Linked DNA regions of Homo sapiens: all the other regions are linked to region 5. Evidence: fine-mapped expression QTL. A gene starts in region 5. Each other region holds a variant in brackets. All regions are shown on one strand. Distances are between the middles of the regions.

Region 1 (4,067 bases), 27 kb before region 5:
AGCCACCGTGCCTGGCTGTTTTTTTAAATCTCAGCCTTTGGCCAGGCTTGGTGACTCATGCCTGTAATCCCAGCACTTTGGGAGCCCAAGGCAGGTGGATTGCTAGAGCCTGGGAGTTCGAGACCAGCCTGGGCCACATAGTGAGACTCCAACTCTACGAAAAAATTTTAAAAATTAGCTGGATGTGATGGTGCTTGCCTGTGGTACTAGCTACTTGGGAGGCTGGGGCAGGAGGATCATTTGAGGCATGATTGTGCCACTGCACTCTAGCCTGGGTCACAGAGTCTCAATAAATAAATAAATAAAATCTCAGCCCTGCAACTACAAGAGGTGATATTTCTTTCAGACAGTCCTAGAAGCTGTTAGATCCCCTATGCAGATTTTTTTTTCTTTTTGAGATGGGGTCTCTGTCACCCAGGCTGGAGTGAGTGGCTTGATCATGGCTCACTGCAACATCAACCTCCCTGGCTCAAGTGATCCTCCTGCCTCAGCCTCCTGAGTAGCTGGGACTACAGGTGTGTGCCACCATGCTCGGCTAATGTTTTTATTTTTTTTGTAGAAATGGGGTCTCCCTATGTTGCCCAGGCTGTTGTTGAACTCCTGGGCTCAAGCATTCCTCCTGCCTCGACCTCCCAAAGTGCTGGGTTTATAGGTGTGAGCCACGGCATCAAACCTCCTTATGTAGATCTTGAGCTATGAATAAAAAGTTAAAAGTCCTGAGCTAATTATTTTGATTTTAAGGAAATGTGGCAATCCTCTGACTAAATAATTACACTTTTATGAATTTATTCTAAGAAAATAAGGAGGTACAAAAAAATCTAACTATCAGGGTGAATCAACAGAGCACTATGTATAATAGCAACAAACTAGAAATTATTATACTTGTCGGAAACAACTGGGAATTTTGTAAATAAACTAGAGTACAACCATAAAGTAGAATGCTCCACAGCCATTAAAAATGTTAGAGAAGAACATTTATTGACATGAAAAGGTGTTTCAGATATACTGATATGTCAAACAAATAGTAAAACAACATAGAGTAATGATTCATTTTGGTAAAAAATATATATGTATATATAGAAAAAAAAATTCTGCAAGGACATATGCTAAATTGGTAACAGTGCTTACCCCTGGGAAGGGGGTATACAGATGTTGATTTACTCTTTGGGTACCTGTATTTCCCAGTTTTTCTATAAATCACATCATTTGCTTCTGTCATAAGAAAAAATAATATCTATTATCATCCTTTATTTTGATCAAAACAAATCAATTTTTTAAAAAATCTTAGGTTTTTTTAAGAAGCAGAAATAATTTCCAAATTGCCTCCAGAGACAATGATTTTATCCTCTGCAGAAGCTGGTCAGAACCTTCTTGATCACAGCCCCAGTTAGATACAGGGAAGAATGGCGCTTCCTACAGCTTCAGCGGCCTCAGCTCAGCTCTGTGCCCCAAGGCCAAACCAGCTCATCTCCAGCCCCATCCATCCTATTCTTGCTGAGTCACCAGTCTCATCATCTTCAGAGCCATGTCCCCTTGGTCAGAAGGAACCTAGAAAAAAACAACATCTGAGTTAGTGCTCCTGGTGCTATTCCTGGGGCTGGGGTCAGAGGCAACATCCTGAAACCTTGCTCCCAAAAGGGAGCCAGCTCTGTGACAGCAACCTGTGCAGACACCTGGGCACATCCCTGAGAGAGGGTCCTTCCTGAAAATGACTCCTGCACTGGATGAAAGCTCTTCTGGGCCCTGACTGGGCTGGGTGGCAGGGACCTGGAGAAGTCAGCATTTAAGACAAGAACCTTCTACTCCATTTGGAGCTGATCTGTTGATTTCTTGGTAAGGGTCATGCTAATGATACTAGACCTAGCCTGTTCAAGGAAGAAGGAAGATTCTAAACATTTTAAAGGCATCTGTCTAGAAGGGATCCCGGATTGAGAATAGAGAAATGGCTGAGAAGGGAGCTCACAGCAGAGAGCCGCAAATAATAAAAACAAACAGGGCCCTTTGGGTGGCATCCGATTTTCGCAGTTATTCAACTTTCTTTTGTTTTCCCTCAGATTTTTAGAATAAGTCCTTTAAAATTTCCTTCCCACACAGCATCAAAAGGGGGAAGGGCAGAGGCCTCAGTTTCTCCCTACACAGAAGGGGTTGGAGTATATGGTCTCCCCGTTATGTAATTCCCTGGCTCCATGATTCTCTATGGCACACCCATCCTTGACTCTTCTGCCAAGAGTCCCCAGGAGGCACAGGCA[A/C]GGTGGGTTATCCTAAAATGTCATTTAATCAATGAAAGGGGAAGTGGTTTGGGGACGACTTAACAACAGTCTCCAAGGGCTATTTTAAGCCTGTCCCCAACTGATCTGTTGTTCTATATGTGACAAACCAACAGGAAATGGGCCTGAACTCTAGTATACAGAGCGCGTGGTTGGCTTGTTCCATGCCTTCCTACCAGCCTCGTCAGGGACTTCTCTCTAGGGCAGGCTGAGCATCCCTCATTGGAAAATCCAAAATGCTCCACAATTCCAGCCTTTTTGAGTGCCACCATGAGGCCACAAGTGGAACATTTCACACCTGCCCCATGGGCGGCTGCATTCAAAATGCAGGCGCACAACACACAGTTTATTTCTGCATCCCCAAGGGGGTTACAGTACAGTAACCTTTTAATCAAAACACAGCATTGTAGGTAGAGACCGAAAGCTGCTGTTGCTTGCTGTTGCTGTTGTCTAGCAGCTGACACAGGTATTCTGGTCATGCTACTGTGCTGCTCAGTTACTCTGAACACACAACTTTTCCACTGTATTAATGGTATGTTGTATTTCTTACTGTGAAGTACTTATGTGTGACTACATGCAAGAAAAAGATTGCTTATCGGCAGCATATAAATTTGGAGTCAGAAATGATATGATGCCTAACAACCACAGATTGGTTGAAGAGCCATGGGTGGCTGAAATAGCCACCCTTTGCTCTCTAATAACTCAGTGCACACAAACTTTGCTTCATGCACAAAATTATTTAAAATATTGTACGAAAGTACCTTCGGTCTATGTGTATAAGGTGTATATGAAACATAAATGAATTCCATTGCCTAGACTTGGGTCCCATCCCCAAGATATCTCATTATGGATATGCAAATATTCCAAAATAAAAAAAAAATTAAAAATCTGAAACATTTCTGGTTCCAAACATCTCAGATAAGGGGTACTCAACCTGTAACAGTGCTTGCTCTAAGACGTTCTAATTTTCTTTCTTTTAGTCAATATTGAAGGTACTCAGATCCTGAGAGCCATAAATAATGCCCTCTCCCTCTGTGCCCTGCTGCCTTGTTTGTTCTCCCTTTAGATTAAGTCTATTTGTTTATTTATTGATTTACTTTTTGAGACAGAGTCTCACTCTGTCACCCAAGCTTTCAGGCTCAATCAATCCTCCCACCTCACTCAGCCTCCAGAGCAGCTGAGACCACAGGCAGGCGCCACCGCGCCCAGTTGATTTTTGTTCTTTTTTGAGACAGAGTCTCACTCTGTTGCCCAGGCTGGAGTGCAGTGGCGCTATCTCGCCAGCTGGATGCAATGGCACTATCTTGGCTCACTGCAACCTCTGCCTCCCAGGTTCAAGCGATTCTCCTGCCTCAGCCTCCTGAGTAGCTGGGATTACAGGTGCCCACCATCATGCCCAGCTAATTTTTGTATTTTTAGTAAAGATAGGGTTTCTCCATGTTAGCCAAGCTGGTCTCATACTCCTGACCTCAGGTGATCCACCTGCCTTCGCCTCCCAAAATGCTGGGATTACAGGTGTCAGCCACCATACCCAGCCTAGATTAAGTGTCTTTTGAGAGTGGGCTGCTTTCTCTGGCTTCTTAAAGGAAGCTACTGTCTCTTCTCCTCACTACTCATTCATTTTCTCCAGTCTTTCCAATCTGGCTTCTGAGCTTGCCACCTCACCAAAATATCTCACCAACGCAGGTGCCAAGGACATCGGTGTAAGCACATCATCACTCACGTTTCAGCCCTTCCCCTGAGTTCTCACTTAGCACTGCGGGCCCCTCCCTGCTTTGGGGATGCCACGCATCCCTGGTC
Region 2 (4,067 bases), 68 kb before region 5:
AACCCAGACATCTGAAATTTAACAGGTCAAAACCTGTTTCTCCTACAGTCTGTGTCACCTTGGTAGATAATTCCAAGCCAGAAAACAGGAAGCCATCAGTGATAGCTCCCTCTTATCCCTTACCTCCAATCCAACATCATGTCTTATTTATCTATTTGTTTTCCTTCAAAATGGCCTAAATCCCCTCACCCCTTTCCATCCTCGCTGGTACCACCCCAGCTTCTTCTCTTTCAAGAGCCTGTTCACTTGCTCTCCTCTAGTTTATTCTCCATGATACAGCCAGATAGCTCTTTTTAAAATGCAAACAATGATGAATTTCCACAATTCCCCATGCATTTGGAATAACGGCTATACTCTATCTGCGCAAGCTACCCCCAGCCCCTCTCCACAATCTGACCTGCACTCCCCAAACATCCCCTTCCAGGAGTCAATTTCTGTCTTGTCTTGTCTTATTCAGCGCTGGCCATAGGCATTCCCTGTGTCTGGAACTCTCTTCTACAAGCTGTGGCTGCAGGCTCCTTTTTCTCCTTCAGATCTGAACCTAAACATCACCTCCACATGGAAGCCTTTATTAAGCATCCTCTGAAATAGGTTCCACCACATAAAGCTTCCTTCTATTATTCGCAACCACAGTACCCACGTCATTTCCTTCTTTGCATGCACCCCTGTTGGTCAGGACACACTTATTGGTTTATTTGGAGGTTTCCCTCCATTTGTTGCAGTTTCTTTGAGTGCAGAGGGCTTATTCCTTGTGTTCATCCAGAGCCAATCCCAGTGCTGACCACAATACAGATTTCATAAATACAGTAAATCCAGTAGTTCCCCCTTACCCATGGGGGACATGTTCCTAAACCCCCAGTGGATGCCTAAAATCACAGATAGTACAAAACCTTTTTTTTTTTTAATCTTTGTAGGTAGTGTATTTTAAATAGCTTTCAAGACACACATATTTTTTCCTTTAAAAAAGTCTGTTGGTGGCCGGGCGCGGTGGCTCACGCCTGTAATCCCAGCACTTTGGGAGGCCAAGGCGGGCGGATCACGAGGTCAGGAGTTTGAGACCAGCCTGGGCAACATGGTGAAACCCCATCTCTACTAAAAACACAAAAAATTAGCCAGGCGTGGTGGCACACGCCTGTAATCCCAGCTACTCAGGAGGCTGAGGCAGAAGAATCGCTTGAACCCGGGAAGCGGAAGTTGCAGTGAGCCGCCGAGATTGTGCCACTGTACTCCAGCCTGGGCGACAGAGCTAGACTTCCTCAAAAAAAAAAAAAAAAAAAAAAAAAAAAAAAGTCCGTTGGAGCAGTTTTGTTCCTGAATTTTGCTGGTCATTCTCATGGTCCCGAGCCCCCAAACTCCAGGTCCTGGAGGCAGCCGAGGGGAAGGCTGGGAGCCCACGCGGCCTATTCTGACGGCGCTCGCAGCACTGGTGGAGCAGCGGTGCCCCGTCTTGCCACAGATCATGCATGGCCGCCATGTGAGCTAAAACTTCCATTTATTTCAAAGCAGTAATAATTTAAAATTCTAAAAATCTTTCCACCGCTGAACGTTTAGAGGGTGAGGTTAGACAAAAGACGGGGAGGCTGAAGGCGCCCCAGAGGGGACCATGTGGCCCACGCCTTCCCGAGCCAGGGAGCCGGTGGGCCGGTCCAGGATCCTGCCCTGGAACAGGCGGGGCCTGTAGCGCTGACCAGCCAAGACTGGCGCCTCTGGGGCACCCAGTCTGTGGGTGCCGTGCGGCCCTGGCTGAGGGTGGTTGGGAAAGTC[C/AGTCC]CCGCGGTTTCCCCGCAGCCTCAGGCGCAGCGGGCAGTGGTGGGTGCCGGCCCACGCGGGCTCAGGAGTTACTTGTGGCGTTCTCTTTACTGGGCGAGCTGGAGGAGGGGGAGGACGACGAGGAGGAGCAGTTCATCCCAGTCGGGCCCGGGGCGGGGGTGTTCGTGGCCGTGTTGTGTCCCGGGAGGCTTTTTCGGCAGACGGGGCAGCTGTCGTGCTGCTCCAGCCGGTGCACTATGCAGCCATCGTGGAACAGGTGGTTGCGGGGCAGCTGCTCGCCCAGCGCGTAGTCGTCCTTGCACACGGGGCACTCGAGCCCGGAGCCTACGTGCTCCTCGGTGACGGGGACGGTGGGGAGGTACTGGATTTTCTCTTCATCTGCCGGTGGGGGGCCCGTGTTTTCAAACTGATTGAGGAGCTGTGCGAAGGCGTCCAGGCCGTTGGCCACTCAGGCGTAATCCATAGGGTTTGAGTGCAGGACTCCCCAAGGACCCAGGCTGGGGATGGTGGCGGGCGTGATGATGCCGTTGACGAGCTGCTGGATGATCCCTTCTAGCGTGGGGAGGCCTTCGTGCCGGCCGGTGGCCCGCCGCGTGGGGAGGCGGAGGCGGGGCTGCCGGGCGCAGTACGGGGCCGGGACTGATGCTCTGTCTCCCACGGTCTCTCAGGGTCCTTGCTGCCGTCAGCCTGCGCCCCAGGAGAGAACGTGGGGATCTCGAAGCTGTCGTCAAAGATGCCGAAAGCAAACTGTCCGTAGCCCTGCGGCAGCGTGAACAGGTGCTGGTCCGCGTTCTCCAACGGCGGCCGGCTCTGGTCCGTGGGGGCAGTGGAAGGGGCAGAGCTGTTTTCTGTGCTCCTGGTCTCTTCAGGAAGCTCCTCGATAAAATCAGACGCACATCTTGGGCAGATATAATCCGATAGGCGCGGGACGGTGTCCAGGGAGCAGCAGTGGCAGAAGAACCGTCCTAGCTGCTGCGACGCCTCGGCCCTGGCCACCGCCCCCTACTCTGCGCCGCCCGCCCCCCGCGAGGCGCCAACCGCCGGCCATTTGCTGCTCCCTCGCTGATCGACGCCCAAACCTTTTATATACTATGTTTTTCCTACCTACATATCTATGATCGAGTTTAATTTACAAAATAGGCGCTTACTAAGGAAGCGATTAACAACAATAACGAATAATAAACACAACAATTGAGTCAAATAAGGGTTACTTGAACACAAGCACTGCAATACCATGGATTGGTCTGATAACTAACAGCTACTAAGAGACTAATGGGCAAGTAGCATCTACAGTTCAGATACACTGAACAGCCGGAGGATTCACAGGCCGGGAGGGGTGAAGCAAGACGGTGTGAGATTTCATCACGCCACTCAGAATGGCAAGCAACTGAAAACATGAATTATTTCTGGAATTTTCAGTTTAATATTTTTGGACTACAGTTGACCGCAGGTAACTGAAACCGTGGATAAGGGGGTACTACTGAATGTGTATTTTGAATTTTCTAGCTAAGAATATCGCCTTTTTTTTTTTTTTTTTGAGATGGAGTCTTACGCTGTCGCCCAGGCTGGAGTGCAATGCCACGATCTTGGCTCACTGCAACCTCTGCCTCCCGGGTTCAAGTGATTCTCCTGCCTCAGCCTCCGGAGTAGCTGGGATTACAGGCACCCACCACCACACCCAGCTAATTTTTGTATTTTTAGTAGAGACGGGGTTTCACTATGTTAGCCAGGCTGTTCTCCAACTCCTGACCTCAGGTGATCCGTCCGCCTTGGCCTCCCAAAGTGCTGGGATTATAGGCATAAACCACCGCCCCCGGCCAGAATATCACTTTTTTACAACTTTTTTTTTTTTTTAATTTTGAGACAGAGGTTCTTTTCGTCGCCCAGGTTGGACTGCAGTGGCGCCATCACAGGTCACTGCAACCTCTGCCTCCTAGGCTCAAGCAATCATCCTGCCTCAGCATCCCTAATAGCTGGGACGACAGGTGCCCGCAACCATGCCTGACTAATTTTGTGTTTTTTGTAGAGAAGTGTTTCACCATGCTGCCTAGGCTTGTCTTGAACTCCTGGGCTCAAGTGATTCACTTGCCTCAGCCTTTCAAAGTGCCAGGATTACAGGCATGAGCCACATGGCCAAGAATATCACTTTTACCTTTAACAGATATTTTTCTTTTTCTTTTTCTTTTTTTTTTTTTTTGGAGACAGGGTCTCACTCTGTTGCCTGGGCTGGAGTGCAGTGGCATGAACAAGGCTCACTGCAGCCTCAATCTCTTCGGCTCAAGTGATTCTCCCACCTTAGCCTC
Region 3 (4,067 bases), 110 kb after region 5:
TCCAGTTGTCTGAGGGCTTTATTGGTCCAGAGTCCATTGCCATTACCTAAATCATGGTCAAGATTTAGTATCAGTTTGAAGGTCATGGCTCCTTTCACCAGCCTGATAATGGGAGGCCCACCCTGACCACCTTATTTAATCCTGATTATCTCCCAAAGGCCCTAATCAACTTGTGGATCGTTCATCTTTTTTTTTTTTTTTTTTTGTGAGATGGAGTTTTGCTCTTGTTGCCCAGCTTGGAGTGCAATGGCATGATCTCGGCTCACTGAAACCTCTGCCTCCCAAATTCAAGCGATTTCTCCTGCTTCAGCCTCCCAAGTAGCTGGGATTACAGGCAACTGCCACCATGCCCAGCTAATTTTTTTGTATTTTTAGTAGAGATGGGGTTTCACCATGTTGGCCAGGCTGGTCTCACACTCACAACCTCAGGTGATCCACTCGCCTTGGCCTCCCAAAGTGCTGGGATTACAGGCATGAGCCACCACGCCCAGCCGGATTGTTCATCTTGTATGACAAATATATAAAGGTTTTTCCACCTAAATGATCAGAATGTTTTGGCTATGTCCTACCTAAAATGACCAGATGACTCTAAATGTTAGTCAAATTCTGAACCTCAGGTCACTTGTACATAAAGTGAGCCCTCAGAAATGAGCCTCCTGAGTGATCTCCAGACTCAATCATACAAGGGTTACAGATTTCACTCTTTTGTAAGAGCTCTTTTTCCTCAGCTGGGAGCCTCTGAATTGAAAAAATTGCTTGTTAGTATTTCAGCAACTCTTGAAAAAAGTTTTAGTGATACTTACGAATTTTCTTCAAGCAGTACAATATGAGATGAATAATTTCACCTCAGCAGTACCCCAAAGTAGGAGTTACTGACACTTCAGCTGCTCAGCAGGGAGAAGCTTACGGTGTTTTTATGTTAACAAAACATTAAGTGTTTGTTATATTTGATATTGTTGCCCAAAATGTAAAAGTTCCTAAAGAACACAAGGTTTTCATCTCATTAGCACTGCCTCCCTTGATTTATTCAGTTGGTTAAATCTTGGCTCCTGGGAATCTTTACTCAGGGTTTTCAATCCTTTGCTATTATTCTTCTTGTAGTTATTGTGTTTACCCATACACAGTGGGTACCCATACACAATGGCTTACCCAACACAGTGCATTGTATTTTCTCAATAATTTTTAAAATTTATTTTTGAGCGACAGTGTCGTGCTCTTTGACCCAGGCAGGAGTACAGTGGTGCAATGCTACCTCACTGTAGCCTGGAACTCCTGGACAAAAGTGATCCTCCCACCTCCGTCTCCTGAGTAGCTGGGACTACAGGTGTGCATCACCACACTCAGCTAATTTTTTTTTTTCCAATTTAGAAAGTTTATTTTGCCAAGATTAAGGACATGCATGGGCACGGGACACAGCCTCAGGAGGTCCCTGATGACATGTACTCAAGGTGATCAGGATTCAGCTTGCTTTTATATGTAAAAATATGGAACATTTCATGAATTTGCATGTCATCCTTGTTCAGGGGCCATGCTAACCTTCTCTGTATTGTTCCAATTTTAGTATATGTGCTGCTGTAGTGAGCACTACCCAGCTAATTTGTATTTTTTTGAGATGAGGTCTCAGTCTGTCACCCAGGATGGAGTGCTGTGGCGCAATCTCGGCTCACTGCAACCTCTGCCTCTCAGGCTCAAGTGACCCTCCTCCATCAGCCTCCCGAGCAGCTGGGACCAGAGGTGTGTGCCACCACGCCCGGCTAATTTTTTGTATTTTTGGTAGAGATGGGGTTTCAATATGTTGCTTAGGTTGGTCTCGAACTCCTGAGCTCTAGCAATCCACCTGCCTTGGCCTCCCACAATTCTGGGATTACAGGTGTAAGCCTCCATACCCAGCCCTGCCCAGCTAATTAAAAAAAAATTTTTTTTTTTTTGTAGACATGGGGTCTTGTTACATTGTCTAGCTGGTCTTGAACTCCTGCTCAAGCAATTCCCCTACTCTGGCCTCCAAAGTTCTGAGATTACAGGTGTTATTCACAGAGGCTGGTCCTTTCAAGGATGTTTAAGTGCTTTCCAGTAGTCACTCATATGTCAAAAGATTGCCGTAAGGATCAGACAACTGGAGGAAACCAGCATGGACTATGTCATTCCCGAGGGTGACTCTGAGCCCTAGGGCAGCTATTGATAAACATCTGACTCTTCTTCCTAGACTATGTCAATAGTGGTAACTGAGAGTAATGCTATGCCATTTG[G/A]TCACACTCTCAGCTTGCGGACGGGGTGACTAAAAGTGGGGAACTGTCAAAGCAAAATTAAAATGGAAACTAGGCTTGAAACATTCCTGAGCAAACAAACCAACTAGGCCTTAAAAATAGCCCTAACCTACTTAAACTGTAAACATAAATGAAACTTAACTTGGGTCATTTTTGGTAAATGCTTATGTTAGATACAAAACTTAACCTCAGCCAATCATAAGCAGCCAACTAACATGATCATGAGACTGGGGACTTTCCAAGAAAGTAAGCCAAAAAAGGCAACCAATCAAATCATTTCTTAATTTTGCTTCTGTATGCACTCTATGAATACTTGCCTCTGATGTTGTGTCATTGAAACACTAAATCCTCATTGGGTTTGGGGTTTCCCAAGTCACGAATTGCTTCTTAAGTACATTCTAAAATTTTATTGTGCCTGCTTTTTTTTCTTTTACAATAGTCCATGTGTAATACTTTTAGCTCATCATCTCCAAACTCCTTCCATGAGTAACTTTTTGGTATATGATGTTTCCTTGTACAGGGAATTCCTCAGACAGCCGCATAAGCCCTAGTCCTAGTGCTCAGAACAATGACACGTCTGCCAATATTTAACACTTTTAAAATACTGTTGGTGGTGGTTGTGTTGATGATGAAAGGCAGTGGGGAGGATGGCCTGGGTTCAATCTCTAGCTCCGGGCTATCAATGTATATAACATGGAGCCAATAATGTCTACCTCACAGAAATACAGATTATAAAATAAAAAGTAAAAGCATGTGACACCTAACTGTACAATAAATGTGTGAAGCTGTTTAAGTCCAAACATGGATCATTACATGTAAGATGGCCTATGTGTGAACATCAGCAGCTATCACAGCCACGTTCACATATATGTAAATTATCAAGGGGCATTACGCTTGGCACTGTTTAAAAGAAAGCAGGCAAGTGATCAAGTGAATTTTTATTACAAAAATTTTATAAAAATGGATTTCCAGGTAAAGATGGCAGAATAAAGCAGGACTACAGAATATTCTTCCTCTAATGCCTAATAAAATGAATAAAAGATGTTACATGCCACAGTACATTTTTCAGATCGTTACTGATAAATCAGAAAGCTTTATGAAAATCCAGATGGAAGGAAACACACAGTTCTGCCATGCATATTAAGATGCATTCACTCTCCTGCCCTAATAATTATCATATAACCTTATGGTAGACGATAGTCAATTAGTTGCCAACCAATACTTAAAAATTAGATTTCATATACTCTAAACTTCTGTCTTTTCTAGAAAAATAAATTGTTTACACTAGGCCTGCTTCCCAGGAATCATGTGCTCCAGTTTACCGAAGTCTCTACAACTCTTACCTTCGTTGCTTGCCCAGCTCCTGTAAGCACTTGCAACCCGTAGGTGGGCATTAATTCCCATTCTTACAGAGAAAGAAAATTTGAGGCTCAGGAAGAACAAGTGTTAAGTTACAGTAGTAGAGGCTGGGTTTCCATTCAGGTATTTCAAATAAGTGATACATTTTTCCATACTCTACCAACTGAAAATAAGGTGAATTCACCTTTGATCCCACTTACTGCTCTACTCTGCCAGGAGCCAGTTTATATGCGTGAGAATGAATGTTTCTCCTAACACACGTGTATGATTCTGTGCTCTTAGGCTACAAAAGCCATGCAATATGAATTTTTTATTCTTTCTGTCTAAAAGTATGTGATCAGAACTTGCCACATATATGTTTGCCCTGCTGTAGACCAAGAACCACTTTTTGGGACACTAAGTCAAAGCTGCTTATTGTATCTCATGGTTGTGTCAAAAAACTAC
Region 4 (4,067 bases), 740 kb after region 5:
TAAAGCAAGTTCTTAGAGACTTAGTCTACAAAGAGACTTAGATTCGCACACAATAATAGTGGGAAACTCCAACACTCCACTGACAGTATTTTTGAGGACAGATCATTGAGGCAGAAAATTGACAAAAATGTTCAGGACCTGAACTCAACATTGGACCAAATGGATCTGATAGACCTCAACAGAACTCTGTCCCCAACAACAGAATATACATTCTCCTCATTACCACATGGCACATACTTTAAAATCGACCACACAATTAGACATAAAACAATGAGCATATGCAAAAGAACTGAAATCATATCAAACATACTCTTGGACCACAGCACAGTAAAAATAGAAGTCAAGACTACAAAAATTGCTCAAAGTCATGCAATTACATGGAAATTAAACAACATGCTCCTGTATGACTTTTGGGTAAGTAATGAAATTAAGGCAGATACCAAGAAGTTCTTTGAAACTAATGAGAACAATGATAAAACATACCAGAATCTCTGGGACACAGTTCAATCAGCCTTCAGTGGGAAATTTATAGCACTAAACTCCCACATCAAAAAGTTAGAAAGATTTCAAATTAACAACCTAACATCACAACAGAACGAATTAGAGAAGCAAGAGAAAGCCAACACCAAAGCTAGCAGAAGACAAGAAATAACCAAAATCAGAGCTGAACTGAAAGAAATTGAGACACAAAAAAAAACCATTCCAAAAGATCCAGGAGTTGGTTTGTTATAAAAATTAATGATATATAAGCTACTAGCTAGACTAATGAAGAAGAAAAGAGAGAAGATCCAAATAAACACAATTAGAAATGACAAAGAGGATGTTACCACTGACCCCAGAGAAATAAAAATAACTATCGGAAACTACCATGAATACCTGTATGCACAGAAACTAGAAAACCTAGAAGAGATGGATAAATTCCTGACATATACACCCTCCCAAGACTGAACCAGGAAGAAATTGATTCCCTGAACAGACCAATAATGAGCTCCAAAATTGAATCAGTAATAAATAGCCTACCGATTAAAGAAAGGGCAGGACTAGATGAATTCACAGCAGAATTCTACCAGATGTACAAAGAGATGTAAAAGATGTGGGTGTTTAGAGCTGGTACAATTCCTACTGAAACTGTTCCAAAAATTGAAGAGGGAACTAATTCTTCCCCACCTCATTCTATGAGGCCAGCATCATCCTGATACTAAAACTTGGTAGAGACACAACAACAACAAAAACTTCAGGCCAATATCCTTTATGAACATTGATGCAAACGTCCTTAATAGAATACTTGCAAACCAAATCCAGCAGCATATTAAAAAGCTAACCCACAACAATCAAGTAGGCTTCATCCCTGGTATGCAAGGTTGGCTCGACATATGTAAATTAATAAATGGTATTCATCACATAAACAGAACTAAAGACAAAAACAACATGATTATCTCAATAGATGCAGAAATGGCTTTCAATAAAATTCAACATCAGTTCATGTTGAAAACTCTCAGTGAAGGAACATAGCTCAAAATAGTAAGAGCCATCCATGACAAACCCACAGAGAACATCATACTTAAAGGGCAAAAGCTGGAAGCATTTCCCTTGAAAACTGGCACAAGTCAAGGATGCCCTCTCTCACTCCTCATAGTCAATGTATTAGGTTGGTGCAAAAGTAATTGCAGTTTTTGCCATTATAGTAAATGTAAAAGCCACAGTTACTTTTGCACCAACCTAATAGTATTGGAAGTCCTGGCCAGAGCAATCAGGCAACAGAAAGAAATAAAGGGCATCCAAATAGGAGGAGAGGAAGTCAAACTACCCTTGTTTGCAGACCACCTGATTCCGTATCTAGAAAACCCCATAGTCTTGGCCTAAAAACTCCTTCAGCTAATAAACAACTTCGGCAAAGTTTCAGGATACAAAATTATGTTCAAAAACCACTAGTATTCCTATACACCAACAACAGACAAGCCAAGATTCAAATCAGGAATGCAATCCCATTCACAATTGCCACGAAAAGAATAAA[AT/T]ATCTAGGAATACAGCTAACTAGGGAGGTGAAAGATATCTACAATGAGAACTACAAAGCATTGTTCAAAGAAATCAGGGCCAGGCGCGGTGGCTCACTCCTGTAATCCCAGTACTTTAGGAGGCCGAGGCAGGCAGATCATGAGGTCAGGAGTTCGAGACCATCCTGGCTAACATGGTGAAACCACGTCTCTACTAAAAATACAAAAAAGTAGCCGGGGGTGGTCGCACATGCCTGTAGTCCCAGCTACTCAGGAGGCTGGGGCAGAAGAATCGCTTGAACCTGGGAGGCAGAGGTTGCAGTGAGCCAAGATCATGCCACTGCACTCCAGCCTGGGTGACAGAGTGAGACTCCATCTCAAAAAAAAGAAAGAAAGAAAGAAAAGAAAAGAAAAGAAAAAGAAATCAGAGATGACACAAATAAATGGAAAAACATTCCATGCTCATGGATCATGGATAGGAAGAATCAATATGATTAAAATGGCCATACTGCCTAAAGTGATTTGCAGATTCAGTGCTATTTTTATCCAACTACCAAAGACATTTTTCACAGAATTAGAAAAAATGATTTCAAAATTCATATGGAACCAAAAAAGAGTCTGAATAGCTACAGCAATCCTAAGCAGAAAGAACAAAGCTGGAGTCATCACCTTAGCCAACTTCAAACTATAATACAGGGCTGCGGTAACCAAAATAGCATGGTACTGGCACAAAAATAGACACATAGGCCAATGGAACAGAATAAGGAGCCTAGAAATAAGGCTGCACACCTACAACCATCTGATCTTTGACAAAGCTGACAAAAACCGTCAGTGAGGAAAGGACTCCCTTTTCAAGAAATGGTGCTGGGGTAACAGGCTAGCCATATGCAGAAGATTGAAACGGGACCCTTTCCTTACACCATGTACAAAAATCAACTAAAGATAGATTAAAGAATTAAATGTAAAACCCAAAACTATAAAAACTCTGGAAGACAACCTAGGCAATACCATTGTGGACATAGGAATGGACAAAAATGGCCTGATGAAGATGCCAAAAGTAATTGCAACGCAAGCAAAAGTTGACAAATGGGATCTAATCAAATGTAAAAGCTTCTGCACAGCAAAAGAAACTATGAACAGAATAAACAGACAATCTACAGCATGGGAGAAAATATTTGCCACCTATGCATCTCGCAAAGGTCTAATATCCAGCATCTGTAAGGAACTTAAACAAGTTTATAAGAAACAACAACAACAACAAACATTAAAAAGTGGGCAATGGACATGAACAGACACTGCAAAAGAAGACATACATGTGGCTGACAGGCATATGAAAAAAAGTCAAATATCACCGAACATTAGAGAAATGCAAATGAAAACCACTGTGAGATACCATCTCATACCAGTCAGAATGGCTGTTAATAAAAAGTAAAAAAATAACAGATCCTGGCAAGGTTGCAGAGAAGAGGGAACACTTAGACACTCTTGGTGGGACTGTAAATTAATTCAACCATTATGGAAAGCAGTGTGGTGATTCCTCAAGGAGCTAAAAACAGGACTACCATTCAACGCAGCAATCCCAATACTGGGTACATACCCAGAGGAATGTAAATCAGTCTACCATAAAGACACATGTATGTGAATGTTCATTGCAACACCTGTCACAATAGTAATTATATGGAATCAACCTAAATGCCCATGAATGACAGATTGGATAAAGAAAATGTGGTACATATATACCATGGAATACTATGCAGCCATAAAAAAGAATGAGATGATGTCTTTTGTGGGAACATGGATGGAGCTGAAGATTATTATCCTTAGCAGACTAATGCAGGAACAGAAAACCAAATACTGCATGTTCTCACTTATTAGTAGCAGCTAAATGATGAGAACTTATGGACACAAAGAGGGGAACAACAGACACCGGGACCTACTTGAGGGTGGAGGGTGGGAGGAAGAAAAGGATCAGAAAAAATAACTATTGGGTACTAGTCTTAGTACCTGGGTGATAAAATAATCTGTACAACAAATTCCTGTAACATAATTTTACCTATATAACAAACCTGCACA
Region 5 (4,067 bases):
TATATTTTGAGTAAAAAAGTAAAAATCTCAGAATGCAATATACTGGTTTTTATATCGTATTTAATACATGAGTAAGACACCAGGCTTGGTGGCTCACTCCTGTAATCCCAACACTTTGGAAGGCCAAGACAGGCTGATAGCTTGTGCATAGGAGTTCAAAACCAGTCTAAGCAACATAGCAACACCCCATCTCTACAAAAAATGCAAAAATTAGCTGGGCATTGTGGCATATGCCTGTGGTCCCAGCTACTCAGGAGACAGAGGTAGGAGAATCGCTTGAGCCCAGTAGGTTGAGGCTGCAGTGAGCTGTGATCACACCAGTGCACTCCAGCCTAGGTGACAGAGGGAGATCCTATCTCAAAAAAACAAAAAACCAACCAACCAAACAAACAAAAAACATGAGTGAAGAGGCATCACAAATTAGTGGGGCTGAGAATATTCAATATACAGTAATGGAGCAACAATTACCTTTTTTGGAGAAAAAAAGAGAAATTTAGGTCCTCTCAACACTATAAACGAAATAAGTTCCATGAGGATCAAGCAATTAAATTTTAAACTTTAAACATTAAAAAAATACAAAAATATAGTTAAATATATTTCTAATGTCTGGATGAGGAAAGAATCTAAGCAAACCCCAGAGACTGTACAAAAGAAACAATGATGGAGGTGAGAACAGAAACTTGTTATATTTCTATACAACAAAATTTCTGTAAATCAAAAATAAAAAGGCAAACAGCAAGGAAAGAGCTACAACAAATATGAAAAAGGGCAATTTTCCTAACTCATGTAGATGATTTTTTTAAACTGAACGATATATATCTGTGTATGTGTGTTTAATATACGTATCCTATAATCCCCTAACTCCAATTTTCCTTACTTAACTTTTCTAGCATCCACAAAATATGTTTTAGAAAAGAGTAGGCTAAATACATTTTCTTTGTCACTTTTTGCTAACGTAACAATTTCCAAGTTATAGCATCTTTTTTTTTTTCCTCCAAAACCACTCTGGGAAAAAAAAAAGTAGAGGGGCTGTTGTTAAAAGATGATGGGGGGGATCCCCTCGGTGACTGGAGTTTTCTGCCTTCTATTTCCTCCCTTCTCAAATTTCAAGCCCCATTGGTCAGTAAAAGAACACTGGTCCCAACAGCTAAAGAGACAGGAGTAGAGAGGAAGACAATGAGACAACGTCTTGTAAATAAGAAAGAGCCAGGGTGGTGGCCTGTGTCTGCAGTCCGGGCTACTTGGGATGCTGAAGTAGGAAGATCACTTGAGTCAGGCAGTTCCAGACCAGCCTGGGCAACATAGTGAGACCCTGACTCAAAACAAAACAACAATGAAGATTAAGAAAACCAGAAAGTGTCCTGAGGAGCAAAACAGATGACTAAAACATTACAGACTTAGCTATAAGGTTCTATATACAAGTAACACACGATTATATTGTCCTTGACAATAACAGATAAGGCTGCGCTCCCTTGAGAATGACAGATAAGGCGCAGGTACCTTTTGACCTAACCCCAGGCACTTCTCCCTTGCCTGGCAGTGACTACTGGTAAAATTGGCAGAGCTACTTATTTTACAAAATCTCCCAGACACTCGCCTAAGGGCCAGATGATCCCCATTTTAGAAAAGGAAAACAAAACTGTTCAACAACTTGCCTAAGGTCACAAGGCAAGCTTGTGGCCAGTTCCAATTCTCAGTGCTTGCTTCAGACTAGGAGAGGTTTTGCTGAAAATCAATTTGCAAGTCATCCTATTAAACACAAATCTGTTTTTTGCCAAAAAAGATCGCTGTGGGGGAAGATGTTATCTTGTTTGTTTTGATCAAGAAAAGAAAGGGCCTTATCTCAATGAAATGTCCCATTCGTGGTAGGATGTAAGGGTACTTTTGACCGCAGATTTCAGCTTAAAATAAAACGACCTTATATCCTCATTTAGCAGCCAATCATGGCCTTTGAATCGGGGAAACCTCATTGACCAGCAGTTTCCCCAAATCATACATTTCTGCACACAGCTTCTATCTAGGCGTAGGAGAGAACGGAAGCACTCAGACCACCCAGAGCCAGAAAAGGACAAAAAAAGCACTTTGAATTTTTTAAGGAAAAAAAAAAAAAAGAGTGAGATTCAAAAGCAATATAATTACACAAGGTAAGAACCGGGGAAAAGAGACATGTTTTCAAAAGCACAAACCCAGTAACAAACTCTCACGCCTGGAGAAAAAAGAGGCATGGCAGCTGGTGCGCCTCTTGCTTGAACCTACCTGCGTTCAGGCCCAGCAGCAGCGGCAGCAGCAGCAACCACCGCGGGACGGGAGAGCGCCGCAGTGCCAGCTCCATGACAAGTACCGCACGGCAGCATCAGCAACAGGCTGGACCCGGCGCCCCATCACGTGACGGAGGCGGACGGGGCGGGTCGGGGGCGGGGCCTGCGGGTCGGGGGCGGGGCCTGAATGGGCATGGGGCGGGGCCTGGGCGGACCCGGCAGCTTGCTGAGACCCGCACGCCCTCTGCCCGGCAAGCCCACCAGGACCCCTGCAAATGCGCAGGGGCCGTTCTGTCCGCCTGGCCAGGTTCTCTGTCATTTTAGGGAGAGTATTTCGGAAAGGAGACATTTGATGCAGATGTTGGATTTAGGTTGTGTGACCGGATCGAAATACTAAAGGGAATAACCACCGCCCTTTCTACCCCTCCCATCTCTTCCTTCCCTCAGCAAAAGAACCGACGTTTTCCAACACTGCTACATCTGCGAAGTCAGATTAAGCCAGCTGGTCGTTGGCAAACAGCGGGGTTTCATTTTCAGATATGTATTTTTTAAATTATTTTTCTTTTAAAGTTATGTATGTTATAAACGTTTTGGAAATATGAACAAAAAAGTTATACATAACTATTGTTGGCATTTTTTCCCATAGTCTTTTACGTCATTTTAAAAAACACTAATAAAGATTTTTATTTTTTTTTTCTTTTTTGATAATTTGTCATTAGTATTACTCTGTGTTACGTTATCTTCACAGCAGTCATTTTAAAGAGAGAATCGAGGGTCTGGGGACGGGAAAGGAAGAAAAAGTGGATGACAGAGCTGTTTTCCTCTGTGTGTGTGTGTGTGTGTGTGTGTGTGTCTGTCTGTCTGTCTGAAGGTCATTTTTACGTTAGAGGGTACTGAATAACTCACCTCACAGCTAGGAGACAAGCTACAGCAGGGGCTGTAGGAGAGGCTACTTCTAAATACTGCTTCAAAAGTACATGTAACAAAAAGCAAAAAACAAATCAAAGTACATGTGGCCACTTCTCCTCTTTCCCTGCTCCTTTCTCCCTCCCCTCGCCCTTGACCCCCATAAATGGAAGTGCTTTTTACTCTGCAGCCATTGTCTGGACAGAGCCTTGACCCCGCCCTGCCTGTGAGGTGCCCCTGCACTGAAAGCTGCGGCAGAGAAAAATATGCCGCCGGGTTCTGTCATGCTTTAAGCATGGGATGGTCCCGAATGCATAAAATCCATAATGCCTGGGCAACATATTGAGACCCCCTCTCTACAAAAAATAACAAAAATTAACTGATGTGGTGACACGCGCCTGCTGTCCAAGCTACTCAGAAGGCTGAGGTGGGAGGATCACTTGAGCCCAGGAGCTCCAGGCTGCAGTGAGCAGGTGTTCCATGCCATATGGGAGATACATAAAAGTACATGCTTAGTTAAAAATAAATAACTATCTAGCAAACTTTTCCTGTCTGAAGCTTCCAAGTTGGTCTGTATCACTAGGGCTTGAAATACACTTACCCTTCCACTGCAGTCAGAATTTTAGGGTTTCAATTTTTTTGCCACAAAAATAACACTACAGCCCAGGGCGCAAGGTGGCTCACACCTGTAATCCCAGCACTTTGGGAGGCCGAGGTGGGCAGATTACTTGAGGTCGGGGGTTTGAGACCAGCCTGGCCAACATAGTGAAACCCCATTTCTACAAAAATACAAAAATTAGCTGGGTGTGGTGGCACTTGCTTGTGGTCTTAACTACTCGGGAGGCTAAGGCATGAGAATCGCTTGAACCCAGGAGGTGGAGGTTGCAGTGAGCCAAGATGGTG
Region 6 (4,067 bases), 21 kb before region 5:
TGAGGCTCTCCCTTAATTAAACAGCGCATTTGCCCAATAACCAGGAAAATGTCTAAGTTTTGTGGTAGAGACAGGTGGTGTTCTTTTCTTTAATCATACCTAAGGGCCCCCAAACCCAGGTAGGCTCAGGCTTCTGAGGGGTCACAGCCACGTGCAGCTCCCCACCCTTTGAATAATCAAGGTCGGGGTAGACGGATGTAATGGGAAATGGCCTTCCACCTGGCATTTCAACATCACCCACCGCAAGACTGACATGTCCAAGGCCAGTTCCCTTCCAGTTGAACCCATAAAACTGCCTCTAGGTGCCTCTCAGAGTCAATTCCTACCCATGGTATCTACGATGAGATCCAGCTGTCCATTATACACCGTCACGTTGATCCCTGCCTCCAGCAACTCGTCCACAATGCTAATGACTGGCTTCATGAAGTCCTCCTCCATGTTCACAAAGACGTTGGTAGCCTGGCCTGCACATGGGGAAGGAGAAAGAGGGAGTAGCTTGGAATCTGCCAAAACAGGAGGTACCTTTCAGCCCAGAGCATCTTGGGCTCCAGCACCGAACAACGACTGAATGCACAGATGCTTCACAAACAGGGATGAACCAGCCCAGAAATTTGTGCCGACTGGTCAGGTGTAAGGCACACATAAATAGCACATGTGGTCCATTCTCTTGAGAGCTTGTGATGACAGCAGGCACCATTTTTAATGAGGAATTGACACCTGGAATAGGCTACTGTCCAAGGAAACAGGGAGGGAGAGGCCCAGGAAATACTCATTAGGCTGGTACACTCAGGGAATAAATTGTGCTTTGGGCCAATGTCAGTTTTCCTGTTTTTTTGAGTAACACCAGGGCCAAGTTTCAAGTTCTGAACAGGTAGGCCTACCTTATAATAAACCAGATCAAACCTAAACCAATTCAGAGCTGGCCCTCAGGAAAGCCAAATGAATAACAAGCCCCAGGCAAGAGAGGAGCTAGTACTCTTGCTAGCTCCTGCCCATCAGCATTATCCTAACACTGAATGACAGCAATAAGAGTGGCAGCCACCATTATTTGCTAGTCACTGCCAAGGAGGCATCTGACAAGCAACATCCCATTTTCTTCTTCATTACCTTGGGAGATAAGAAGTCTTCTTTTAAAAAAATTTAATTTTTATTTATTTATTTACTTATTTGAGACAGAGTCTCACCCTGTCACCCAGGCTGGAGAGCGGGGGCACAATCTCAGCTCACTGCAGCCTCTACCTCCCAGGCTTAAGCGATCCTCCCACCTCAGCCTCCCAAGTAGCTGAGACTACAGATGCACACCACCACGCCCAGCTCTTTTTTTTTTTTTTTTTTTTAGACAGAGTTTCACTCTTATTGCCCAGGCTGGAGTGCAATGGCACAATCTTGGCTCACCGCAATCTCTGCCTCTCGGGTTCAAGCGATTCCCCCACCTCAGCCTCCCAAGTAGCTGGGATTACAGGCATGTGCCACCTCACCCAGCTAATTTTGTATTTTTAGTAGAGACAGGGTTTCTCCATGTTGGTCAGGCTGGTCTCGAACTCCCGACCTCAGGTGATCCGCCCACCTTGGCATCCCAAAATGCTGGGATTACAGGCGTGAGCCACCACACCCGGCCACACCCAGCTCTTTTCATTTGAGCTAATTTTTCTTCATTTCTAAAATTCTCCCAGCACTCAGGAGTAATGAAAAAACCAGGGATGGAATGAGACCTCTGGTGACTGCAGGTTGGGAGAGGAGGGCCCATGTCCCCTGAGAAAGCTCCCAGCAGCAGCAAATCGTAGGCTCCCAGCAGCAGCCGCAGGACCACTGACCCCATATCCTTGGGGTATCTTGAACACACATGAAACAAAACCCTCTTAGGTTTGGAGTATTTTCCCTTCAGAAACCTGAGATCTCTGCTTGCTCAAGGCCTCCCTATAGGACTAAAGTAGGAACTTAACCAAGATTTCTACCTGGCCCTGGTCTCTAAGGATTTCATTATTTCCTCACCATGGCCTTGAGACCAGAACGCAGTAATGCCTGGCCATATCCAGCATCAGGATGCCTGGGGAGGTCAGCAAGAGAGAGCTGGTCAAAATCTGCCCGAGCACCTGGGTGTCTCTGACATCCTGCAAGGACCTTTGGCGCGAAATCTCATCTGCAACCAACTGTGGCCTTCGATGTAGCTTTTTTATCTTAATTTTTTATTATGGAAAATTTCAAATGGATAGAAAGGAGAAGCATACAATGCTCCGATGTACCCATACCAGGCTTCAACAATTATTAACTCACAACCAATTACACATTATTTCCCTCCCCACTCAGCTCCCTACCAACTCCTTATTTTGAATCAATTTTGATGTCTTTTTTTTCCCCTTTTTAAGAAACAGGGTTTCTCTCTGCTGCCCAGGCTGGAGAGCAGTGGCA[T/C]AATCATAGCTCACTGTACCCTCAAACTCCTGGGTTCAAGCAATCCTCCCACCTCAGCCTCCCAAGTAGTTAGAACTATATGCCACATGCCACCATGCCCAGCTAATTTTTCTATTTTTTTAAAGAGATGGGGCTTTACTATGTTGCTTAATTGTGGCCTCAAGCAATCCTCTCAACTCAGTCTCCCACAGTGGTGGGATTATAGGCGTGAGCCACTGCATCCAGCCCTGACAAGTCATTTACTGTCTCTGTATCTATTTGCTCACCTACAAAACGTGGATAGTAATATTGTTTACCTATAACCTATCATCACCAACAACAAAACCCACCCTACAAATTCAGGTCTCTGAATTTGCACCTCTTTTCTCCCCATAACTGTACAAACGGCACTTAATTAGGTCATATAAGTACCTCCCCAGGATTGATCCTCAGGAATAATTTTGAGCTTCTTTCTGATGGGGCCATTCATGAGCTGGCTTAAGGCATCTCGTTGTAGGTGTCTCACGTGGCGCTGACAAAGACAAACTAAAACCAAACTGGTAGATAGTGAGTCAAAGGGCTGGAAGTAAGGCCAAGAGGACATCTTTTTTTTTTTTTTTTGAGACAGAATCTCTCTCTGTCTCCAGGCTGGAGTGCAGTGGCACGATCTCGGCTCACTGAAACCTCCGCCTCCTGGGTTCAAGCGATTTTCCTGCCTCAGCCTCCCGAGTAGCTGGAACTACAGGCACCCGCCACCATGCCCAGCTCATTTTTGTATTTTTAGTAGAGACAGGGTTTCACCATGTTGGCCAGGATGGTCTCGATCTCTTGTCCTCATGATCCACCCGCCTCAGCCTCCCAAGTGGTGGGATTACAGGTGTGAGCCACCACGCCTGGCCATGAGGACATCTTTACCAAGCTGCTGGGGATGCTGCACAGCAAGAGGGAGGGTTTCAGATTCAGCTGGAAAAGGAAAAGCGTCACCTTGATTCACCCCCAGCGGGAGGAAGGAAGTCAGAAACACATTGAAAGTGGAGAGGCTTTATTATTAGGTTGGTGCACAAGTAACTGCGGTTTTTGCCATTAAAAGTAATGGCAGAATTTCTCAAATTCAATGGCACTCTGGCCTGGGCAACAGAGTGAAACCTTATCTCTTAAAAAAAAAAAGGGAAAAAATAGATTTGTCAAAATTGGTTCAAAATAAGGGGTTGGTAGGGAACTGGGTGGGAAGGGAAATAATGCTTCATTAGTTGTGAGTTAATAATTCTTGAAACCTGTCAAAAACCACAGTTACTTTTGCACCAACCTAATAGTATTGATTATACATTCTATAGACTTGGGGGCCATTGGGATTCTCCAGAACGGCCAAAGAGAATCATCTAGAAAGTGGAACCTAGGGTATCCTGCAGCCTTTATATGCTTCTTGGTTGGCTGAAAGATGACTAAATTCAGTCTTGAACTGATGTTGTAATTTGGTGTATGGAAGCTGGTTTCTAAACTTCAAAAACATCATGCTATGTGACAGAAGCCAGTGCAAAAGACTAACTATTGTGCGATTGTATTTATATAAAATGTTCAGAAAAGGAAAATCTAGAGAGACAGAAGGCAGATGAGTGGTTGCCTGTGGCTGGGAGTGGGAATGAGAACTGTCTGCAAGCAGACACGTGGGATCTCCTTGG
Region 7 (4,067 bases), 28 kb after region 5:
CTTTGAGAGGCCAAGGTAGGCAGATCACTTGAGCACTTGAGGCCAGGAGTTCAAGATCAGCCTGGCCAACATGGCAAAACCCCATCTCTACTAAAAATACAAAAATTAGCGAGGCATAGTGGCAGGCGCCTGTAATTCCAGCTATTTGGGAGGCTGAGGCACGAGAATCTCTTGAACCTGGGAGGGAGAGGTTGTAGTGAACTGAGAAATGCACCAGTGCACTTTGGCCTGGGTGACGGAGTTGGGACTCCGTCTCAAAAAAAAAAAAAGAAAAGAAAAATAAAAATAAAAAAAAGAAAACGGACAGTTACTTTGGAGCTCGGCCTAATAAGAACCTGGCATTTACCTTGCTTTTCAGCTTTGTTGATGCTCTTGAGAGCATCAGCCAAGACATTCATGTGCACCACTGTGGTGGTATGGAAAGAGCCAGCGTAATTTTAACCAGATATCTGGACGTCCAATAGCCCGGACAAATTGATACATAAAATTAAGCTTCACAGAGTGTTGTGGAATTGTACAGATGGCTGTCACTACCCTAGAGAACATAAATTGTTTAGTATTCACCTAAATTAAAACAGGAGTAAAATCTTATTAAAGAAAGAAGCCCACATTCTGAAACAAAATGGATAATCAGCATTATCACCTTTTAGGGTAGGTGACATGCATATTGTAGAAAGATTGTGAGTTTGAAGTTAGACAAACTGAAGTTTGAATTGCGTTTCTGCTACTTATCAGCTCTAGATTTGGGGCAAGTAACTTGTCTGAGCTGTAATTTTGCGATCTGTAAAATTAAAAATACCTACTTTGTGTTGGTGTTTAGATTAGAGAAAAACGTATTAAAAATGTTTAGGATGCAGTAGCTATTCAATAAATAAAACTAGCCATTTGAAAGTTGACTGTGAGTAATGCTACATAGGCCATTTTGCCAGAAAGAGTCTTTTGTCTTTAAGTGATGTGACATTTTTTCATTGACTGATGGTAGTTACATTTTGTAGAGTCATCTCAGTATATAACTATGTCCTGGAGATGTGTTTATAAATTGCTCACTCTAGCTTTCTCTCTTGTTCTTTTGACAGAGTTAAATTAGAAGAGAGAGGAGTTGCTGAGAATTCTGTAGTCATCAGTAATGGTGACATTAATTTATCTCTTAGAAAAGCAAAGAAGCGGGCATTTCAGTTAGAGGAGGGTGAAGAAACTGAACCAGATTGCAAATATTCAAAGAAGCATTGGAAGAGTCGAGAGAACAATAACAATAATGAGAAGGTCTTGGATCTGGAACCAAAAGCTGTCACAGATCAGACTGTCAGCAAAAAAAACAAGAGAAAAAATAAAGCAACCTGTGGCACAGTGGGTGATGATAACGAAGAGGCCAAAAGAAAATCACCAAAGAAAAAGGAGAAATGTGAATATAAAAAAAAGGCTAAGAATCCCAAGTCTCCGAAAGTACAGGCAGTGAAAGACTGGGCCAATCAGAGATGTAGTTCTCCAAAAGGTTCTGCTAGAAACAGCCTTGTTAAAGCCAAAAGGAAAGGTAGTGTAAGCGTTTGCTCAAAAGAGAGTCCCAGTTCCTCCTCGGAGTCTGAATCTTGTGATGAATCTATCAGTGATGGTCCCAGCAAAGTCACTTTGGAGGCCAGAAATTCCTCAGAGAAATTACCAACTGAGTTATCAAAGGAAGAACCCTCTACCAAAAATACAACTGCAGACAAACTGGCTATAAAACTTGGCTTTAGCCTTACCCCCAGCAAGGGCAAGACCTCTGGAACAACATCTTCCAGTTCAGACTCTAGTGCAGAGTCAGACGACCAATGCTTGATGTCATCGAGCACCCCGGAGTGTGCTGCGGGTTTCTTAAAGACAGTAGGCCTTTTTGCAGGAAGAGGTCGTCCAGGCCCAGGGCTGTCATCACAGACTGCAGGTGCTGCTGGATGGAGGCGTTCTGGCTCAAATGGTGGTGGACAGGCTCCTGGTGCTTCTCCCAGTGTGTCTCTCCCTGCTAGTTTAGGAAGAGGATGGGGTAGAGAAGAGAACCTTTTTTCTTGGAAGGGAGCTAAGGGACGGGGCATGCGGGGGAGAGGTCGAGGACGAGGGCATCCTGTTTCCTGTGTTGTAAATAGAAGCACTGACAACCAGAGGCAACAGCAATTAAATGACGTGGTAAAAAATTCATCTACTATTATCCAGGTAAGTATTATTTTTTGTAAGTTATCTCCTCCCTTTCCCCTTAGAATGTGTGTGGAGTTCATGTCATGGATTCACATTTTCTCACCAGTGATGATGTCACATGACTAACACTGTTTTTCAGAATCCAGTAGAGACACCCAAGAAGGACTATAGTCTGTTACCACTGTTAGCAGCTGCCCCTCAAGTTGGAGAAAAGATTGCATTTAAGGTATATTTCAAAAGAACAGTCACAGCAAAAAAGGTTCATTCCCCTTCCAAATAAACTTACTTAGAAAATCAGGTTAAATGTGTTTGTAAAAGCCCTTCCCACTGGAACCCCAGTGTTGTTACGGGTTCC[T/C]GGTAGGGCTCCCAGACTGGTCGGGGTGGACACGCCAACATGGCATGATGGAGGAGCTGTGGGAATGGGAGAGGATAAGAGGGCTTATGTATTTGTGGGTTTTTTCTTCTTTTTTAGCTTTTGGAGCTAACATCCAGTTACTCTCCTGATGTCTCTGACTACAAGGTAAGGATGTTTATTTAAAAGTAAGTTGTCAGTGTATTATTAAAACTAAAGTCATATTTAATACTACTTGTATGGATAATACAGATTTGTTTTTTTACTAAATAAAAATGCCAGAAAGTAGAAAATGAAAACATTAATCGAAATGTCAACTCTTTAATAGTATCACTGGGAAGTCTCCCTGTGTTATTTGCCTTATACTTGGGAAGAATAGAGTAGGAGAATGATGAGCTTAATTTTTACTTTTTTAAAAAAAATATATTAATTTTTTGTTTTTAAATAGCGACAGGATCTTGCTATGTTGCCCAGGTTGGTCTCAAACTCCTTGGCTCAAGCAATCCCCCCATCTTGGCTTCCCAAAGTGTTGGGATTACAGGTGTGAGCCACTATGCCCAGCCAGTTTAATTTTTTTAGTTACTTTTTTCTAATTAGTTTAGACCAACTTATTTGGGTATTCATTCCTTCATGATTCTAAACTTTGAAAGAAAATAATAAATAGTTCTCAGCAAGAAGATTTGATTATTTTCATCATGGGAATCTATTTTACATATTTGTGAATTACTTCTGGTTGTTATGATCTAGTATGATTTCTTCTGCATTATCAGGTAACCACAGGTAATTCATAAATATTATCCGTGGAATTTACTTACTTAATATCTGTATGAGTCTTTATATTGGCATGTGAGGTTTTTCATAGTTCAGTAAAAGCTTGACTCAGTCAGAGGGATCACAGAATTACATGTTTCTTTTTCACCCACCAACATTTTGTTGAAAATCTTGTTAAAGTGCATTCTTTCTTTTTTTTGATGTACTATATGGAATGTAAGACCATTTTTTAAGGTAATAATTGGTAGTGTTAATATAGTAACATAGATAAAATACAAGGGAATTTGATTTAATCTGGATTGATGCCTTGGAAGACTTAAAATCTTTATAGAAACCTTTCCTCAAGGCTGGGCTTGGTGGCTCCCACCTGTAATCCCAGCACTTTGGGAGGCCAAGGTGGGTGGATCACGAGATCAGGAGATTGAGACCATCCTGGCTAACACAGTGAAACCCCGTCTCTAGTAAAAATACAAAAAAAAAAATTAGCGGGGCATGGTGGCGGGTGCCTGTAGTCCCAGCTACTCAGGAGGCTGAGGCAGGAGAATGGCGTGAACCCGGGAGGCAGAGCTTGCAGTTAGCTGAGATCACACCACTGCACTCCAGCCTGGGTAACAGAGCGAGACTCCATCTCAAAAAAAAAAAAAAAAAAAATCTTTCCTCAAAAGCAGGCTGGAAGAATCAGTTAATGAAGGGATCTGGTGGGTTAGTTCTAGGTCGTTGGTGTTTTGTTTTTTATCTTCTTAGGCACTTACTATCTCCTATGGATGAGGTGATCATG

Direction of the effects. Alleles are on the strand shown, and positions count from the first base shown. SD is a standard deviation of normalised expression in the study named. Not every link is listed here.
As copies of C replace AGTCC in region 2, the expression in monocytes after Pam3CSK4 of the gene that starts at base 2,361 in region 5 goes up (moderate effect, 0.49 SD a copy in Quach 2016).

Evidence for each region. PIP is the estimated chance that this variant, and not a neighbour inherited with it, causes the effect.
Region 1: its variant is fine-mapped to the expression of SCPEP1 in whole blood (TOPMed, PIP above 0.99). The same link has a PIP of 0.9 or more in monocytes.
Region 2: its variant is fine-mapped to the expression of SCPEP1 in monocytes after Pam3CSK4 (Quach 2016, PIP 0.95). The same link has a PIP of 0.9 or more in monocytes and monocytes after LPS.
Region 3: its variant is fine-mapped to the expression of SCPEP1 in whole blood (INTERVAL, PIP above 0.99).
Region 4: its variant is fine-mapped to the expression of SCPEP1 in spleen (GTEx, PIP 0.92).
Region 6: its variant is fine-mapped to the expression of SCPEP1 in blood mononuclear cells (TOPMed, PIP 0.98).
Region 7: its variant is fine-mapped to the expression of SCPEP1 in whole blood (TOPMed, PIP above 0.99).

Annotation. Positions count from the first base shown.
Region 1 is chr17:57,003,654-57,007,720 of GRCh38, reverse strand. SCPEP1 (serine carboxypeptidase 1) reads right to left here. Exons shown (of 13, transcript NM_021626.3): 13 at 953-1,548. The coding sequence ends at 1,486. Among named protein-coding and RNA genes, the nearest start is that of SCPEP1, 28 kb to the right of the region's middle. The variant A/C (reference allele first, on the strand shown) is at 2,250.
Region 2 is chr17:57,044,204-57,048,270 of GRCh38, reverse strand. It overlaps the pseudogene RNF126P1. Among named protein-coding and RNA genes, the nearest start is that of AKAP1-DT, 39 kb to the left of the region's middle. RefSeq lists enhancers at 2,009-2,058, 1,296-2,223. The variant C/AGTCC (reference allele first, on the strand shown) is at 1,765.
Region 3 is chr17:56,868,688-56,872,754 of GRCh38, reverse strand. It overlaps DGKE (diacylglycerol kinase epsilon), which reads right to left. Exons shown (of 12, transcript NM_003647.3): 12 at 3,188-4,067. All of the region lies in intron 1 of LOC124904037 (a long non-coding RNA gene), which reads left to right. It also overlaps the pseudogene RNU6-1158P. Among named protein-coding and RNA genes, the nearest start is that of MIR3614, 21 kb to the left of the region's middle. The variant G/A (reference allele first, on the strand shown) is at 2,247.
Region 4 is chr17:56,234,382-56,238,448 of GRCh38, reverse strand. All of the region lies in intron 3 of ANKFN1 (ankyrin repeat and fibronectin type III domain containing 1), which reads right to left. Among named protein-coding and RNA genes, the nearest start is that of ANKFN1, 83 kb to the right of the region's middle. The variant AT/T (reference allele first, on the strand shown) is at 2,015.
Region 5 is chr17:56,976,425-56,980,491 of GRCh38, reverse strand. It overlaps SCPEP1 (serine carboxypeptidase 1), which reads right to left and starts at 2,361. Exons shown (of 13, transcript NM_021626.3): 1 at 2,257-2,361. The coding sequence starts at 2,332. RefSeq lists a silencer at 2,419-2,478.
Region 6 is chr17:56,997,252-57,001,318 of GRCh38, reverse strand. SCPEP1 (serine carboxypeptidase 1) reads right to left here. Exons shown (of 13, transcript NM_021626.3): 10 at 2,821-2,934; 11 at 327-464. Among named protein-coding and RNA genes, the nearest start is that of SCPEP1, 21 kb to the right of the region's middle. The variant T/C (reference allele first, on the strand shown) is at 2,410.
Region 7 is chr17:56,948,006-56,952,072 of GRCh38, reverse strand. COIL (coilin) reads left to right here. Exons shown (of 7, transcript NM_004645.3): 2 at 1,077-2,184; 3 at 2,306-2,392; 4 at 2,639-2,686. It also overlaps the pseudogene LOC100419768. Among named protein-coding and RNA genes, the nearest start is that of COIL, 11 kb to the left of the region's middle. The variant T/C (reference allele first, on the strand shown) is at 2,522.